Regions from separate parts of the Homo sapiens genome. Here region 1 is linked to region 2. The links come from fine-mapping of genetic effects on gene expression. Tissue or cell type: whole blood. Region 2 holds a variant in brackets; the other region holds the start of a gene. All regions are shown on one strand. Distances are between the middles of the regions.

The links. PIP is the estimated chance that this variant, and not a neighbour inherited with it, causes the effect.
Region 1: ADAM19 starts here. The variant in region 2 is fine-mapped to the expression of ADAM19 in whole blood (INTERVAL, PIP above 0.99).

What each region holds. Positions count from the first base shown.
Region 1 is chr5:157,574,680-157,577,179 of GRCh38, reverse strand. It overlaps ADAM19 (ADAM metallopeptidase domain 19), which reads left to right and starts at 1,405. Exons shown (of 23, transcript NM_033274.5): 1 at 1,405-1,577. The coding sequence starts at 1,484. It overlaps LOC124901121 (a long non-coding RNA gene), which reads right to left and starts at 2,201. Exons shown (of 2, transcript XR_007059018.1): 1 at 1,810-2,201; 2 at 570-900. RefSeq lists enhancers at 1-6, 1,864-1,943, 2,180-2,500 and a silencer at 1,254-1,693.
Region 2 is chr5:157,492,568-157,495,324 of GRCh38, reverse strand. ADAM19 (ADAM metallopeptidase domain 19) reads left to right here. Exons shown (of 23, transcript NM_033274.5): 15 at 530-638; 16 at 2,148-2,352. Among named protein-coding and RNA genes, the nearest start is that of NIPAL4, 34 kb to the right of the region's middle. The variant A/G (reference allele first, on the strand shown) is at 1,102.

The DNA of each region.
Region 1 (2,500 bases), 82 kb before region 2:
ACAGCAGCTGGAGACTAACGGAGTCCCAAACGACATTAATGGCCAGAACCACTTATTTGATTTCCCTCATGGGTGCCCATGAGTAGGGTTTGATAGACCTACCTACCCATCATCTTCAGGAGTGCCTCGCCCTCTCCAACACTTAGCACTTCTCTAGTCAACCTGGGTTTGACTAAAGAGGCTCAGAAAAAGGAACAGATGGACGAGGTTTGAGGCTGGGATTCTACAACGAGGCTTTGCTAAAACTTGCTGAGGGATCTTAGGCAAGTCATTTCTCTCTCATTATCAGTTTCTCCACCTGGAAAATAAGGTGTGTTGCATCAGGCTCTGGAGTTATACGGATGTGGGTTTGAATCTAGGCACTGACATTAGCTGTGTAATCTTGGGCAAGTGGTTTAGCCTCTCAGGTTTGATTTCCTCATTTCTAAAACAGGGATAGTACTAGTACCTACCCCATGGGATTACTGGGCTAATGAAAAGAGATAATGTATGCAGAGTCCCTGGCTCATAAAAGTTATTTTCTCCGATTAATTAAATAAGTGAATATGTGTAAAGTGCTGAAGACAGCGTTTGACACTTAGCGTTTTATCAGTCTTAGCTATCATGATTTTCTTATTCTAGTACATAGAAAGTCCTCAATAAGTAACAGTAGTTATTATTATTTTTGGTCACATGTCCCTGTGTTTCCCTCCAAAACCCTAACCATCCCCAATTCTGGTTTTCTCCCCGCATGCAGCCCAAGGGTTTTCACGTCCCAGTGCGATTGTCTGGGCTGTTTCCTCCGCCTGATGTTCCATTTCTCCTCCTCCCGATCTCAGATGGCTTCTCCTCTGGGATTCCTCTGGTCTTCATCACTCCCTCCTCCCAGGCAGAAGGAATGGCTCCTGGATTTGTGTCCTGCTTAAAAAAAAAAAAAAAAAAAAAAAAAAAAAAAAAAAAAGAAGTCCATATAGCACTTAGTTCTTTGTGCCTGGCGGTTGGGTTAACTCTTTCTGAGCCTGTCTCCGAGAGTGGCGGCCCCCGGGGGACGGCGCTGGGTGAATCACCTCTGAGTGTCACCCAAGGCGTCTGGCACAGTGCGGGACAGTAAACGGGCCGCTGTGCGGAGAGGGGTCCAGTTTAACTCCTAGAAGCCCGAGTCCCCGACCCTCTACAGGCCGCGTCCACCACAAATCCCTCCTCCTGGGGGGCTCGGATTCTCCCTTCCCCGCGGTCTCCCTCACCTGAGCCAGCCCCGCTCCCCCGAGTCTCGCCAGCTCCTCCCCGGCCCCTCCCTCCAGCCCCCTCCGGGCTGGAGCCTCCCCTCCTCCATCCCCTGGCGGAGGCCCGCGGGGCTGGAGGCGGAGCGTCTCGGCAGAGGGCTGGGAGCCGGGTGGGGAGGCGCGGGGCGAGCCGGGGGGTTCCAGACGCGCCTCCACCGCCGGGCAGTGGGCAGGTATGGCTGAGGGCGTGTGAGCGCCGAGCGCTAAGGGCCGCCGCCACCATGCCAGGGGGCGCAGGCGCCGCCCGGCTCTGCTTGCTGGCGTTTGCCCTGCAGCCCCTCCGGCCGCGGGCGGCGCGGGAGCCTGGATGGACAAGTAAGTGGCCAGGCGCGGGGGGATGGAGGCTGGGTGGCCCGGAGACCTGGGAGTAGCCTTGCGGGTCCGGAGCGCTGGGACCGCGACCCCTGCGCCTCCCGCAACTCCGCGGGGCCTGCGCCCCCGCCGTCCCCAGCCTGGGAGCCCGGGCTTTGTTCCCACGTTCTGCGCCCTGGGAGGTGGCAGAGGTCGGGGAAACCCGGCGCAGCCAGAAAACAGCCGGTCCGCTCACTGGCTAGCCTTCCCTTCTCGCCTTCTCCTTCCTCTGTTTTTCTGCTTTTGGCTTCTCTTTCCGCCGTTCTCGGGGCTTATCCTCCTCCGTTTTCTCACGGTCCCTCGTGTCCGCTCCGCCTCTCTCTCTGTCTTTCTCTCTACCGCCCGCTGCACTCGCCAACGCCGAGCATCCCGAGCGCCCTGCCCGTGTGGCCTGGGAGCGGCTTCCTGGGACCAGGCTCGGTGCCTGCCACACTGGTGGGGTAGGACATAAAATGCCCGCGGCAGACTGTGGTAGCCTTGGCTAGGGGATGGCTCGCTGGGTATCTGCAGCCACACACTTCGGATCCCCGAGCTGGCAGGAGCCCTACTGAAGGCCAAGTCAAACGCACCCATTTCACAGATGGGGAAACCGAGGCCCACAAAAGGGAAAGGACTTGCCCAAGGCCACGCCACGGGTTGAGGTCCGCGGTGGCACTGGAAACCAGGGCTCTCTTTCCACGCCAACCCGACGGCCGCCTTCTTTGGTCCTCAGTTTCCCCTTCTGTGAAGCGAAGGGGTCTGACTCGATGTTTCCAGCTAAGATGCCGGGTGATGTCCGTGTTTCTCAGGACTAGTTTCCCAGACACCAATCCCCTCCCCGGCTCCATCCCTCGGGGGCTATAAGCAGATTTCGCGGAAGGCTTGGTCCCGGGGGGCGGTGCCCGGGT
Region 2 (2,757 bases):
GGTAGGAAGAATTTACATAAAACAGGCCAGGTGTGGTGGCTCACGCCTGTAATCCCAGCACTTTGGGAGGCCGAGGCGGGGGGATCATGAGGTCAGGACTTCAAGACCAGCCTGGCCAAGATGGTGAAACCCCATTTCTACAAAAAAAATAAATAAATAAATACAAAAATTAGCCAGTCATGGTGGTGGGTGCTTGTCATCCCAGCTACTCGGGAGGCTGAGGTAGAGAATTGCTTGAACCCAAGAGGCGGAGGATGCAATGAGCCGTGATTGTGCCACTGTATTACAGCTTGGGTGACAGAGCGAGAATCCATCTGAAAGAAAAAAAAAAGGATTTATATAAAACATTATTCTCTGAGTAGATCTTGTTGAGAATATGGGGATGGAGTAACCTGGAGGGAACAGGAAGAAGAGGCTGAGTATTCCCTCCCAGAAAATATTCTTACCTTCATGACTTTACCAAAGATACCTTTGCCCTTGGGGGCTTCTGACAGATGAGTATACTGATAGATGTTGCTTGCCCACCCAGGAGCCCGACCTGCCCCTGACCTCTGCTTCGAGAAGGTGAATGTGGCAGGAGACACCTTTGGAAACTGTGGAAAGGACATGAATGGTGAACACAGGAAGTGCAACATGAGGTGATGACCAAAGGGCAGGCCTCATGAAATGAGGATGAACAAGCAGTTTCTGCTCTGTCCTCACTGTTGCCCAACTCAGCAGTGTGACTGGCCCCAGAGCTGCACCTTTACGTCAATCAGTTGAAGTCAGTCATCTATTCTCGGCCCCCTGTTTGACAATGCACTTTTCAGCTCTGAGGAAGTCAGAGGAGGGTGTGGGTGGCAGTGCTTCCTAGAAAGCTGATCGGGCTTCCTTTGGGGACCATCTTACAGTAGGGCAGGGAATCAGCCCTTTTGGGTCATTTCTGCCAAATTCTAATCATGCCCTAATTTGAATAGCTCCTCATTCATTAATTCACTCATTCATTCATTTATTCATCATTCATTCCAACCAACCATCCACTCATCTGTCTACCCATCCATCCATCCATCCATCCATCCATCTATCCATCCATCTACCACCCACTCACCCACTGATCCATCC[A/G]TCTATCCATCCTCCACCACCCACTCACCCACTCATCCATCCATCCATCCATCCATCTGTCCGTCCATCTATCCATCTACTATCTATTGAAGATTTACTGTCTATCTACTATCTATTGAAGATTTACCATGTGCAAGATATTGTGCTGAGTGCATGGAACTTCTAATTAACAATATAGTATGACAATGGCAATGTGGAGAGAGCCATCCAACCCATCTTAGTGTGTCAGAGTGGTTTCCCAAAGGAAGTTATACCTACACTGAGATCTGGAGCAGTTACCTCGGTGAACAGGGTGGAAGGTGGTGCTGGTGCATAGGAGAGTAATCCAGGAAGAGAGATGAATAGAGAAAAACTGGTGGTTGAAAGAACTGAGAACAGTTTGATACAGTTAAAGTATAATGTTGGGGTGCAAAGGAGAAGGTCTGCTGAGAAATTAGCCTGGATAGTTTAGCATGGACCAGATCATGAAAAGCCTCAAATGCATGGCTAGGGGAGTTTAGATTTTAGCTTGAGAGCAGTGTGAAAATTAGACTCCTATGAGGCAGACTGGAGGCAGGGAAATCAATCTTCTGCAGACCAGGTAAGGGGGGTGGGGCAGTGTGAATTAAGGTAGATAGATAATAAGATAGATAATTAAGGAGGGAAGATTGATAGGGTTTGAAAATGGCTTGAGCCCAGGAGTGAGGGAGAATGGGGAGTTGGAGATGACCCCAGATTTCTAGCTGGAACTCCTGGGTGGACAGCGGTATAAGGGGCAAAAAGGGAAAGATTGCTCAGCTCAGGTGGCTATTCTTGGAGTTAAGGACTTTTCGAGGCCAGTTCTCTGGTCTAGATTTGCTCAGGGTCAAGGAGCCTGTTCTCTTCCCTTGGTGTCAGTCCACATGGAATCTCTCCTGGTGGGTTCCAAAGCACATGACTGCCCTAAACCTTTGCCCCACCCCACGCAAGCCTGCTGTCTTGATCAAGAAAGACTGAAGCTCTCTGGTGCCCCAGCTCTTCCTCTGCCTCTGATTCCGCTTCCTTCCCTCTCTGTCTCTTGTGCCCAGAGATGCGAAGTGTGGGAAGATCCAGTGTCAGAGCTCTGAGGCCCGGCCCCTGGAGTCCAACGCGGTGCCCATTGACACCACTATCATCATGAATGGGAGGCAGATCCAGTGCCGGGGCACCCACGTCTACCGAGGTCCTGAGGAGGAGGGTGACATGCTGGACCCAGGGCTGGTGATGACTGGAACCAAGTGTGGCTACAACCATGTGAGTCCCCTCCCCTGCTCACCTAGGAGCCAGCTGCAGAGCAGAGTGATTGAGAAGTGAGGTCTGAGGGAAGGATGCCTGGGCTCAGATGCCACCTCGCCAACCTCTGAGCCTTGGTGGCTCCCTTCATGAAGCGTGTATAGTGACAGCAGGCACCCACCCCAGAGAACTGTCGGAAGGATTAAAGAAAATCATCCCAGTAAAGCACTTAGGTGGCCTAGCTAGTGCCACTTTCATCCTCATCGCTAATTATCATAGGAATTAAAAATGGACTAGGAGTTAGGGAAGCCTGAGCAAAATAATAGCACAGACTCTATCCTCCAGAGTCGATTCTGATAATGAAACTATGGAAAACATGAAGCATTTAGCATAGCACCTGGCACAGAGTACTGTCACCATCATTAT